2 linked regions of the Homo sapiens genome follow. The protein of the gene in region 2 interacts with the protein of the main gene of each other region in a pairwise test. Each region holds a gene or a part of one and is shown on either strand. Other genes may lie near its edges.

Evidence for each region. Proteins that work in one complex are often made in the same cells at the same time.
Region 1: the proteins of NOTCH2NLA (region 2) and TMEM41A interact in binary tests that used the Homo sapiens proteins (3 or more experiments, as listed by UniProt).

What each region holds. Positions count from the first base shown.
Region 1 is NC_000003.12:185,489,101-185,496,053, reverse strand, and holds the end of TMEM41A (transmembrane protein 41A precursor), read left to right. Parts: intron 1-738; coding exon 739-900; intron 901-1,292; coding exon 1,293-1,431; intron 1,432-4,296; coding exon 4,297-4,517; 3' UTR 4,518-6,453; downstream 6,454-6,953.
Region 2 is NC_000001.11:146,148,993-146,156,061, forward strand, and holds part of NOTCH2NLA (notch homolog 2 N-terminal-like protein A), read right to left. Parts: 3' UTR 1-7,069.

The DNA of each region.
Region 1 (6,953 bases), on a different chromosome or scaffold from region 2:
TACTGCATAGATGTAATTCCAGCAAAAAGCAAAGAAACAAGACATCTTACATAGCTTGTGTGGTCTTACCAAGGGAAAATTCATGGTTTGTGTTCATCTTTTGAAATAGTAAAAATAACTCGTGAGTTTCATTTCTACTTTCTTGGAGCCCCAGTCATTGCAGAATCTACCACAGCCACAGATCCCATTTCATTCTCTCCTGCCCCCTGAGGCTTTTATCCTTATCCTCATTTTCAAGGTGAAGAGACTGACGGCAGGTGTAGTTCCCAGCCTTTTCATAATTTTTCATTCACCTCTTTAAATGGCAATTGGGACCTGGGGCAGTGGCTCACGCCTGTAATCCTAGCACTTTGGGAGGCTGAGGTGGGAGGATCACTTGAGTCCGGGAGTTTGAAACCAGCCTGGGCAACACAGTGAGACCCCATCTCCACAAAAAATTTTAAAAAGTGGGTGAATGTGGTGGTGTGTGCCTACAGTCCTAGCTGCTTGGGAGGCTGAGGCAGGAGGATCGCTTGAGTCCAGGAGTTCGAGGATGCAGTGAGCTATGATCATGTCACTGTACTCCAGCCTGGGTGACAGAGCGAGATCCTGTTTCTTAAAAATAAATAAATAACGCAATTGGGTTTTAGCTGGAAAAAAGCAGTGAAGGAGGAGGGAACCTATGACTCTCAGGCTCCAAGATGACGTGCCTGGTAGCTGCCAGATGTTCACATGCCTGAGGGTTTGTTTTATTTGCAGAATGTTTTAGCTGGTGCCTTGTTTGGGCCATGGCTGGGGCTTCTGCTGTGCTGTGTGTTGACCTCGGTGGGTGCCACATGCTGCTACCTGCTCTCCAGTATTTTTGGCAAACAGTTGGTGGTGTCCTACTTTCCTGATAAAGTGGCCCTGCTGCAGAGAAAGGTAAGGGGAGGGGTCACATCTGAGAGCTGGGACCCCAGACAGTCGCTACGTGCATGGCCTTGAGAGAAGCGAGTGGCAGGGATTTCCCACAGTACTCTTCCACGCTGTTTCAGGAGGTCCTAGGGGTTCTTTTGATGTCTTCAGGAGACATAGACCTGGGATCAAATCCCAGCTCCATCATTACCAGCTCTGTGACTTTGGGCAAGTTCTTGACTTCTCTGATCCTCAGCATGTCTATTTTAAAATGAGGAAAACAGTCTTTCCCTGGAGGGTTGTTGGAAGAATTGGGAACAGATTATGTAAAGTGTCTAGAACAGTGCCTGGCACCAGCAGGTTTTCAACACCTGGAGACCCTTTCTGCTTCTTAACAGCTTTCTTCTCTTTGGCTACAGGTGGAGGAGAACAGAAACAGCTTGTTTTTTTTCTTATTGTTTTTGAGACTTTTCCCCATGACACCAAACTGGTTCTTGAACCTCTCGGCCCCAATTCTGAACATTCCCATCGTGCAGTTCTTCTTCTCAGTTCTTATCGGTAAGATGCTAGTGGGGTAGGTTTGAGTCTTCAGAGCTGTCACGCTGGGGGTCTGCCCTGGGTTATTGGCCACGTGAGCATGTGCCTGCTTCTGAGAACACAGGCTCACAAAGTGTGACTTCAAGCCTTATGATCTAAAGAAATGATTCCTGATTTCAGATCTGCTCAGGCTTCAACATGAAAACCCATAAAAATACTTTTGGACTAAATAAAGATTGTCCATTGCATGGCTGTATGCACTAGGCACTGGGATTAGAAGAGATGGTCTGTGTAAAGTATACAAATTGGCCCATAGTAAGTACTCAGTAAATGCTAGCAGGAAGAGCAGGGTTGGAATGAGGGTGTGTGTCCATGAGTTTTGAGTGGGGACAGAAGAAAGGAGCAGAGCAAGGGACTTCCTGTCTGGTTTTTGGCCCCTGTTTTGATTAAGTTCTGCCTTAGGAATTGCTGGCATCAGTGTGGTTCCTTCCTGCCTTTTGACAATTGCACAACCTGCAGCAAGCTACTTACCCTCAATGGACCACCTGGCTAGGAATAGAGCAGTGTTTCTCAAAGTGTGGGCTTTGGGCCACCTTCATCAGATTGTTAGGGTCAGGGGGCTTGTTGAGAATCTAGATTTGGGGCCTACTCCAGACCTACTGAATCAGAATCTTGGGAGTGGAATCTGGGAATATGCATTTTAATCCAGTTCCTAGTCAGTCATTTTCAAACTGCAAACCCAGTCATTCTCAAACTGCAAACCTATTAAGAATCGCCTGCAAACCTATTAAAAATCACTTGGAGGCCGGGCTGAGTGGCTCACACCTGTAATCCCAGCACTTTGGGAGGTTGAGGCGGGTGGATCACTTGAGGTTGGGAGTTCAAGACCAGCCTGGCCAACATGGTGAAACCCCATCTCTACTAAAAATACAAAAATTAGCCTGACATGGTGGTGTGCGTCTGTAATTCAACTACTTGGGAGGCTGAGGCAGGAGAATGGCTTGAACCTGGGAGGCGGAGGTTGCAGTAAGCTGAGAGGATGACACTTCACTCCAGCCTGGGTGACAGAGTGAGGCTCCATCTCAAGAAAAAAAGCAAAAAAACAAAAACAAACAAAACAACAAAACATCACCTGTGGAGATTTTAATCCCTAAGCTAAGGCTACACCACACATCAACTAAATCATCTCTGGGGTAGGACTCAGGGATCAGGATCTTTTAACATTTTCCAGGTGATGCAAGTAGTTAGTCCCTAAAAGGGATTCCGCTGGATCCTGAGTTTTGCAGTCTACTGAATTAGACGATATCTAAAGTTTCTCCTTGCCTTTGACAATTATATGACCTGCAGCGAGCTACTTAGTCTGAACGGGCTACTCGTCCAGATAAGGGGCTGGGACTAGAGCAGTGTTTCTTGAAGTATGGGCCTTGGACCACCTTTATCAGAGTGGTAAAGTGCTAACATCCTATAAAATCAGTGTTTGCTACTTTCTCCATACTGGAAGAAAACCACCCTCCTTAAGCCTAAGGCAAGGATCTCTTCTCTTAAACCTCCCTTAGATCCTAGAGGGAAAGACGATTCAGGGCTTCTAGGTCAAACAGAGCAAATCTGTGGTTGAGCAGCTGCTATTCATAGGAGATACCTGAGAGAAATGGAGATCTTAAATAGAAGCAAGATCTACCACGGCCAATTTTGGTCATATTGGCTTTCAGACAAAGTGCCTCAGGCCCTCAGCTAGTGGGGGTTTGCTGCTTCTAATTACCTAGGTGGCATGAGGCTTGGCAAGATTCTGGAGACCAGGCTTCCTGTCCTCTGTCTCACAAGCTGTGTGACCCTGAGGGGTCTGGGATCTTCATCTCCTGTATACTTCCTCTCCTATAGAAGAGAAATGGACTATCAGAGTGTTCCAAACCAATCGGAATCTCAGGGTGGGAGTGGAGAAGGGGCTTTTAAAATACAGGTTCCTGGGCACTACCCCAGAACCAAGTACCCAGAATTTCTGGGGTGGAGCCCAAGGATGTGGTTTTTTAACAATGTCACCAGCTGATTGTTCTGCAGCCAGCCTGTTCAGCCAGCCAGACTTTTGGAATCCAGTGGATTTGATGACATCTTTGAGACAGTACAGAATGTGAATAGTACTTCTTTTAAAAAACTGTTTGTCAACAATGGCACTTCTCTCTTTACTTTGGCTGTTGGGTACTCAGAACCAAATTTGGGGCCCACTTTTGGCAAACAGGTGAACCTTATGCATTTTTTTACTAACTGTACTCCCTGATGTCTTGTATTCTTCTGCACGCATTTTGCTTTTCCTATTTAAAATTTTATTTATTTATTTATTTATTTTTGAGACAGAGTCTAGCTCTATCGCCTGGGCTGAAGTGCAGTGGTAAGATCTTGGCTCACTGCCACCTCTGCCTCCCAGGTTCCAGTGATTCTCCTGCCTCAGCCTCCTGAGTAGCTAGGATTACAGGCACATGCCACCACACCCGGCTAATTTTTGTGTTTTTAGTAGAGACGGGGTTTCACCATGTTGGCCAGGCTGATCTCGAACTCCTGACCTCAGGTGATCCACCTCGGCCTCCCAAAGTGCTGGGATTACAAGCATAAGCCACCATTCCTGGCCCTATTTTAAAATTGTCTTATAGTAGCATGTATTATTTGTGTAAATATCTCAAGTTCTTTTGTTGAACAAGACAGGCATATATGGGAAGTGAGGAAAGGAGGGAAAATAATAGAAAAGAAGGAAAGAAGGGAAAGAGTTAATATGTATAAGGGTCAAGAGTCAAGCAAAAAAAAACCGTAGTCACTGTTCCTGGTGACATTCTGAATTATTATTTTCTTAATTTTGCTGCTGCTTGTAACAGGTGCTTTGTCCTTTTCTTCTTCCAGGTTTGATCCCATATAATTTCATCTGTGTGCAGACAGGGTCCATCCTGTCAACCCTAACCTCTCTGGATGCTCTTTTCTCCTGGGACACTGTCTTTAAGCTGTTGGCCATTGCCATGGTGGCATTAATTCCTGGAACCCTCATTAAAAAATTTAGTCAGAAACATCTGCAATTGAATGAAACAAGTACTGCTAATCATATACACAGTAGAAAAGACACATGATCTGGATTTTCTGTTTGCCACATCCCTGGACTCAGTTGCTTATTTGTGTAATGGATGTGGTCCTCTAAAGCCCCTCATTGTTTTTGATTGCCTTCTATAGGTGATGTGGACACTGTGCATCAATGTGCAGTGTCTTTTCAGAAAGGACACTCTGCTCTTGAAGGTGTATTACATCAGGTTTTCAAACCAGCCCTGGTGTAGCAGACACTGCAACAGATGCCTCCTAGAAAATGCTGTTTGTGGCCGGGCGCGGTGGCTCACGCCTGTAATCCCAGCACTTTGGGAGGCCGAGGCCGGTGATTCACAAGGTCAGGAGTTCAAGACCAGCCTGGCCAAGATGGTGAAATCCTGTCTCTAATAAAAATACAAAAATTAGCCAGGCGTGGTGGCAGGCACCTGTAATCCCAGCTACTCGGGAGGCTGAGGCAGGAGAATTGCTTGAACCAAGGTGGCAGAGGTTGCAGTAAGCCAAGATCACACCACTGCACTCCAGCCTGGGTGATAGAGTGAGACACTGTCTTGACAAAAAAAAAAAAAAAAAGAGAAAAAAAGAAAATGCTGTTTGTATTTTGTGGTCTAATAAGGAGTTCGGGATAGCCTGTTGTATTTGCCTCATGCCAGCCCCTGAGCTGCCTTGGGAGAAGATGCTGATTGTCCTTGTCCAGAGTACTGCTTTTGCAGAGTGACAGGCTGCTGGGACAGATGTCCTCCTGTTGCATCTTTGTGGATGTTTAGTACCAATGATGACACGGGAACTCACATCACTGACACCGCTCTTCATCTTCTGTTAGTCTCTTGAAGAGCATTTTTTTGTACTTCTTTGCTGATGACCTACCTCTTCATAAGCCAAGTGAAACAAGTTGACGAACTGCCTAGGACTTCCACGTGTTGCTCACATACATGATGATTTCTGTCACGCTCTTGTGTTCAGACACACTGACATTACCATGTATGTCAGACCTCCTTATGATCGCATGTCCTGACAGTTAAGCTGATTGCAAACAGACTATTAAATATGAATGGAGCAAACGCTGTATGTCATGGATATGTTCTGGAGAAATTCTTACCCATCTGGATGGGGCAGGGCCCTTGACTCACCTGAATCATGACCAGGCAAACATTTTATCTGTCCTTTCTGCAGGAATCCGTTCTGTGTCATGCTAGGAGAATGGGTTCAGTATATGGGGCCATCAGGCAGTATACCCTCTGAATGTTTTTCATTGTTGTATTTGCTTAGAGTAACTAAACAATTGTATCTTTTAATTTATCTTTTAATTCAAAGAGGAAACCTTGGCTTCTGATAACTTTGTTGTGTTGTATCTTAATGGCCTATAGCTGTCATTACTTCCTGTAGCTGCAGTACAGAATTGTTACAGACCTGGATTAATGCTTCCAAAGACAGAAGGACCTTGGCACCTAAACTGACCAGCCCTGTGATCCTGCACCCCACAGGAGTAACTCATCAGGACTTACCAGACTGCTGCTTTTGGGCATCATCTGCTGGGTTGATGATTTGGTTTGGCCAAGAGTCTTGCCAAGACTTTAATCTATGCCTCTTGTTCTACATGAATTCTTGGGAATTACTCACGTTCCATAGGAAGAGTGCATCCCCAGGTGATGGTTTTTGGTTATGGTATGATCCTTTCACACCGAGGATTTCATTGTTTAAAACGTGTTTCTTTAAAAGAAGCCTTGATAACGAGAGTGGGGGAAGGAGGCAGCAGACTTTGAAGACTGTGGCCTTTGGTGTTCTGGAGTAGGGGGAGGGAAGGAGAAACATGTTTTCCACATCATCGCAAGTGTGTGCCCTTTGCCCCTTTTCAGGATCCTTAGAGTTGCCTCCCTCCCTCCACCCCGACAGTTTTGCAATAATGTGCCTTATCAGTTGTGAGTTTACAGGTGAAGCAATTTCCCAAATAAATGGATGTAAGTGTTCTGTGTGGTGCTTGTTTGAACATGTTGCTAACTTTCAACTACCTTTGCCAGTGGGAATTAGGATTGGCTGAAAATTGGACAGTCCAAAATGGTGTTTTAAGCTTTCCACTCTCAATGCTTCTTACCAAAATAATTTCTCAGAAGCCAGATTTTCATCTTCATTTTCTCTCTCTGCTCCCTGTATAGTGGGGTCAGTAGTAACAGGAGTAGCTACCGGATGGGCAGCAGGAAAGCATAGGGAAGAAGCAGAGTGCCAGTCTAGCTTTTACAGAATACTCAAGAAGAGGCTGTCACCAAATAAAATGATGATTGCCCCTTCCTTTCGTGGCTGTGTCAAATACAAGAATCGCAGAAACTAGCTTTCTCCATTACCTGCTTTTTGTGGCTGCAGGAAACCCAGTCATGGAAAGTCTTCCTTTCCCTCAAGTTCTGACAAATGCTGAGATTATTAAGGCAGCTCTCAGGGCACAAACAGTACATTTAGAAAAAGACAGGACTAGA
Region 2 (7,069 bases):
TCACCACTACCTAATTCCAGAATATTTTCATAATGCCAAAAAGCATGCCTGTACCTATGGGCAGTCACTCTCCAATTCCCCACTTCTTACAGTCTCTGACAACCACTAATCTACTTTCTCTATATATAGATGTACTTGTTCTGGGCACTTAATTCAACAAATGGTCCTGGGACAACTAAATATCCACATGTAAAAGAATCAAGTTAGACTCCCTCCTCGCACATAAAAATTAACTCAAAATGGATCAGAGACCTAAAGGTAGGTGGTAAAATTATAAATCACTTAGAAATAGTAAATCTTTGTAATGTGGGATAAGCAAAGTTTTCACAAATATGACTGAAAGCACAAGCAACAAAAGAAAAAATAAATTGTATTCCATCAAGTTAAAAACATTTGGGCTGAAAAGTATATCATCAAGAATGTGAAAAGACAGTACATAGAATGACAGAAAATATCTGCAAATCATATTATCTGATAAGAGACTTGTATTTAGGATATATTTTTTAAAAACTATTACAGTTCAATATTAAAAAGATAAACCAATTATAAAGTAGGTAAAGGATCTGAACAGACATTCTCCAAAGAAGATACATAATGACTAATAAGTATATGAAAAGATGTTGAAAATCATCAACCATCAGGGAAATGTAAATCAAAACCACAATGAGATAAACACTTCACATTACAGATGAATATAATAAAAAAGACAGACAATAACAACTGTTGATGAGGATGTGGAGAAACTGGAATTCTCATACACTGCTGGTTGGAATGTAAAATAATGTACCCACTTCAGAACAGTCTGACAGTTCCTGAAAAGGTTAAACAGCATTACCATCTGACGCAGCAATTCTGCTCCTAGGTATATATCCAAGAAATATGAAGATAAATGTCTACCAAAAAATTATACAAGAATGTTCATAACAGAATTATTGATAATACTCAAAAAGTAGAAGCAACTCAAATGTCAATCAACTGATGATGGATAAATAAAATGATAAAATGTGGTAAATCCATATGATAAAATATTATTCAGCCATAAAAAGGCACAGAGTACTGACAAATGCTACCACATCAATGAACTTTGAAAACCTCATGCTAAGTGAAAGAAGCTGTCATAAATTACTACATGCTGCATGTTTCCATTTGTATGAAATGTCCAGAAGAGGCATTTCTGGAACAGAAACTTTACCCAATTGCAGTCCATATGTTTTCTGGGATCCCGGAGTTCCCTTTCAACAATGTAAAATACAAACTTAGGTCAAAAGTTCCCATGTCTGAGAAAACTCAAGCCAAATCAGTTCTCCTCCAAAGTTGACAGGATTTATGCTTTAAAAATACAGATACAGAATTCTCTTTGGAAAGATCTACCAAATTCCTGTAAGAAACAGTCTACCCAAAGTAGGGGAAAGGCTATATGAAAAGTTACAAGGCACTTCTTAAAAATATATCTTAGGTTTTTAGGGAAAGGTAAACAGACAAGTTTCCAGACCCGTGGGTGGAATGGATGTAGCAGATTCACTGAGAGGCTCACAGCACCGTACTAAAGGGAGTCTACTGCTTAAAGCCAATTCACATCCTTAAAAGGTCAAATGGAGAGAAATTAAACTTGGGAGAAGCATTTTAAGACTGTGCTGTTATAAAACCTCGGGCCACTTAACTGATTAATCATGGCAATGAGGGCAGGGACCAGAAAAGAGTCTTTAGAACCTGTCATCCCCACACAGAAGAGCAACTTTCAGGGAAACACCCTTATCTTTCCATTTTCAGACCCCGGGAGGTGTGAGGGTGGAAAGGCTAGGTAGAGAAGAGAGCAGAAAGGAGATGAGATGACACAACCAGGATTCTCCGAAGCTGGGCTTGAAGTCCTCAAGAAAAACTCCCATGAACAAGGAAGGAAGAGTGAAGAAAAAAACAGGGATACCTGGAACTGGACAAAAGTAAAAAGATAGAAGGATACTTTTTTTCCCCCAGAAGAAGTCTGTCACAAAAGCAAACCTGCAAATATACGATCAGTATAACACCCAAGAAAATGACACATGCGGCCAGGCATGGTGGCTCATGCCTGGAATCCCAGCACTTTGAGAAGCCGAGGCAGGTGGATCACCTGAGATCAGGAGTTCGAGGCCAACCTGACCAACATGGTGAAACCCCATCTCTACTAAAAATACAAAAATTAGCTGAGCATGGTGGCAGGCACCTGTAGTCCCAGCTACTTGGAAGGCTGAGACATGAGAATAGCTTGAACCCGGGAGGTGGAGGTTGCAGTGAGCCGAGATAGCACCATTGCACTCCAGCCTGGGAGAAAGAGCGATGCTCCGTCTCAAAAAAAAAAAAAAAAAAAAAGAAAAGAAAAGAAAATGACACATGCCCCCAAGTGTGAGAATGCAAGAGGGAATCCCTGACCTATCCCTATCCAACCAGTTTTCTTGGCACACACCTTCCATTCTCTGAATGAGCCCAGATTAACTCACTGACCCCTGTGCCACGTATCTCCCACTCCATCACCCGCCCAGGCTCACTGCTTCCACCTGCGTCCCTTCATATCTCCCTACTGACCTCCACTTTTTTCTAACTTTGTCATCAAAGAAGTCACAGAAATAAATAGGAGGATTCAAAAAGAATAATTTCAGTACATTTAAAAAATTGTAGAATATAGGATTCTCATCTATGTTTATCACGTTCATTCATTTTTCAAATTTTCATTGTGGCACCATTTTATGACAGGCACTATGCTGGGGATGCTGGCGACTAGGGTAGGGAGTTAAAATGAGAGTGTCTACTTGGAAAGATGAACAGATAAATAATCACCGTGATAAGTGCTGTGCTAGAGATATGCAGATGTCAAAAGACCTTAGAAGGTCTACAATCCACTTGGAGGGTAGGGAATATAGAAGGCATTTCAGTGAAATAGGGTGCCTTTGACAAATCATTAAGAATGAGTTCTACATTAAAAAGGGGAAGAGAGGGTGATAGCTGAGGAGGCAGCATAGGCAAGAACATCCAGCATGAAAGAACAGTGAAGGACATCAGGAACATCTTTCAGGAACATCAGGTAAAACAGACTTAGGGCCCAAGTCAAAGGAGCTAAAATAATACACCCTGGAAAGTGGTATGATCATTTCTGCATCTGCTCCAGAGAAACCTGCCAAAATATGATTAGCATAATACCCAAGAGAACATCACATTCCCCATGTGTGAAAATGCAAGAGGGAGTTATTTCTAATAGTTCATAAGCTCAGCAACAACAGAGTAGACACAAAAGCCATAGAATGTGCTTAGGCTTTACTTTAATGATATAGGGATATCACATATCATCAGCCTGTGGAGTACAGAGGTAGTTTACAAAGGATAAACCTTCATTGTTTGGAAAGGAAAGATCAGAGAGCTCTTTATGAAGTTTAAACAAAATCAGAGAAATAAAGAGATGTGGGAAAGAAAGAAAAAAAAGAAAGTACATTGAGGACAGTCCAATCTAACTGTGAACTCATAAGGGACAGCCAGTAAATTCAAAACAGCCTACTGTTTTTTGATTACTTGTGCTACTCTATTAAAATAGCCACAAACACAAAACTAGTCTACCTCTTTCTCTCCCCATTATTGGCCCTAACCCAAAAATAGTGGGAGTAAATGATTTAATAATTTATTTTCATGCTCCATTTTGTTCTTAAGTTAAAATTACTGTGGTTGGTGCCCCTCCTTTAGCTTCTGCTAAAGACTTTACATAATGAAAGCTCATGAAGTGTCTGGATTACTAACAGTTACTTATCCAAAAAGATGAGACATGGTTCATTGATTTGATTCTATTAGTTCTCTCTTGAAGATATTTTTCTCCTCCCTCTGTGAAGAAACATTTCTTTCTGTGTCATACAAGAGGAGTCATTTTTGTAGTTTTAATTCCCTCTTGAGTCCTACAATAATACTAAAATACTCACAGTGACTACAGTATCCTTTGCAGGGAAAAAATTGTAAATTAACCATTTAAATATAGTCACTAAGTTATGTGGCATTCACTGACTCAGAGTTGAAAAAGACTCCAAAATTCTTATCCAGTATTAGAGTATACAAGGACAAAAGGAGAGGCCAAACTAAGTCTAGGACGCACAATACAAAGAAGAAAATGAGAAGACCAAAGTTACAGTCTCAATACTATGACATGATACTAAACCATACAGTCAGTCAGCCAATATATATTTGTGGGCCTAGTATATACTGGGCACTGTTTGTAGGTGTTTGGGTTACATCAGTAAACAAAAACAAAGATACTAGTTTTCATTCTGGAGAGGGTAAGAGGCAGTAGAATTTGGAAAAGACAGACAATGAACAATAGACATAATGAAGTAAATTATATAGTATAAATTATATAGTAAGAAGATAAGAGTTACAGAAAAAGAAAACAAAAAGTAGACCAGGGTTAGTAATTAAGGGGGTGGGGGACAGTTACAATTTTAAATAGGGTGGTTAGAGTAACCCTCAATTAGAAGTGCCAAGACGTGAAATGCAGTGGAAGCAACCATTTGAAAGTTGCAGAATACTTTAACAAGCTACTTTGCCTCCTGCTGACTTTGTTTCCCCATTTTTAGAACTGAAATAATAATTCTCATCAAATAAGGGTGCTATTTACATTGAGATAGTGACTATTACTATAAGTAACATTTTAGTCTCTTGACAAGCATGGGAAGCAATGGAATGAAGGGCAATGGAAGGAAGGGCACTGCATTATGAAAAGGACTTTTTAAAAGAAAACCATCTCCAGGCACTATTCCCCTTTGTGGAAATGAAGAGAATATTTTCTGAACTCCACCTGGGACATATGAACAATGAGCATGAAATCTTACAAACTGTATAAATAACATTTATTCACAGTGTCACTGCATCATCTATTGTTTTGAATTCTCTTTAAATTTCCTTCTATATATTTATCCAAAGCTGAAGTCATCTGGTTTAGATTATGGGACCCTGAAAAGCAAGAACTAGTCTATGTAACTACTTTTAAACATCTGCACAACGCCATACACACACACACACACACACACACACACACACACACACACACACACACACACATATTGATATGTAACAAGTACTATTTGATTATAATTAGGAGTGTCTTGGTTTTCTTATAACATGAACATATATTTTTAACCCAAACAGCTTAAAGCATTTAACGAAAAGTTTTACACACCTACAAAGTGCTTTCAGGAAGCAGATGTGCAGTGCAATGTGGCGCAGTAAGATGCACAAAGCAAAGGCTTTGAAAATAAACTGCCTCGGTTTCAGGACCCAGCCTAACCACATATTAGCTGTACAACTTTGGGTGAATCACTTAACATCTCCAAACTTCAGTTACTTCATGTGGGAAGACTTGAAAAATAATACCTGGTCCCAAGATTTTTGTGTAATTGAGCTAATAAGCATGGAAGTACCTGGCACAGTTCCTGAGTCACCAAAAAAATGTTAGTTTTCTCTTCATCGAATCTCCCCATTCCCACCCCTCATGCTAATCTCCCCTCCCACACACACACACACCATCAGTGAGTAAATAAGTGTCTTGCGTTAAACTACAACCAGAGAATAAGAGACAGCCAAGATTTCCTTACTCTATTTCACTAGCCCTGGCAGCCTCTCAGCTGCGGAATCCTTGGTTATTTCCTTTCTCAAGGAGGAGATACTATTCTAGTTTGACAGATCCTTTCCTGGACACACTCTCAGAATTCCCTAAGGTTCTTATCGTGGCTAATGGATAACAATGCAGAGGCTATGGGAGTGAATAATCACTCTCTCTCAGCTAAAAACTTCCTTTATTGACTTCTCTAACTTCCCGTCAACATCTTGCTGCCAAATCAACCTCTTGTTCTAGGCAATTATTAAAAGCAATTTTCTTGAAACTGAAAAACACATTTAGCCTTCAACAATAAATCACACTAACATCAATTACTAGCCAATTAGATTACTAGAATATCAGACCCAGAGATATTTGCAGTGTTGAAATATTTTCAAAATAAAGTTGTTTACATTTCTATTTCTGTCTTTAATCCTTAAAATGCAAACAAATACAGGAGTGAAGACAGATGTATTTTAGTTATTTCTTCTACAAGATAAAGTGGATAGTAATATTATGTTAAGAAAATACTTATTTAGTATCTAGAATGATAGCATTATCTATTCTTTATTAAAAGAGAAACTAAAAGTAATATAATTAAATAGCTTGTTCTTGTGACTTAAATAATATAAAATTTTCATTTCAATTATGTGACAATGCTTTGTATAGCTGTATTCCAAATACATAGCATGGTGCCTAGAACATAGCAGGCAGTCAATACATTTTTACCAAATGAAATGAATAAATTACCAGTTGATTTTATACTGAGGACCAAACTATGACCTTTAATCCCTCCAAAATAAAACACACAATCCCATTATATGTGAACCATATCCACAATACCAGAATCTAAGATTCCCACTCTGAAAGAGTAACTAGAACAACTTCTTTTTGAGGCAATTCTGCTTACTTAGCACATTACTCCCCCCTACAGTTTTCCTTCTTTTGTTTTTGTACTAAGGATATTTGTATAAAAACAGGATCTTTGTTGCTTAGTAATTCATCTGATTCAGCTGCTTGTATTCTGTTCCCAATCAAAATTCTTGGTTTTCAGCCTCCTCATCATTTTTATAAGGAGTTGAATGAATTGGTCAAGCTTGTTCCTTTCTCCCTCTCCATGGAACACCAGGCCCCAAGCTCCCCGACACTGCTCCTCTTTTTATTTCTATCTTTGGGTTGTGTGTACACTCTAGAACACTTGTATCAGTGAAGAGTGTAACAAAGTATTGTGCCACGCATAGTCTCTCATATATCATCTATCAGCTCATCAAAAAGTGCTCACTGATTAACAGAGGATCCCCTCCTCAGTTTCAGAATTCTCTAGCTTTAAGTTAGGGGAGGGTTACCCCAAAGTCAGAGAGGGTACATGGGAGAGGGTTGTGAAGGCCAGTAGCCCAGAGAAAATCAAGGGCAGCTGGGTGCATTTAGGTGGATAAGAAAACAATGAATTACTCCATCAAAAGCAAA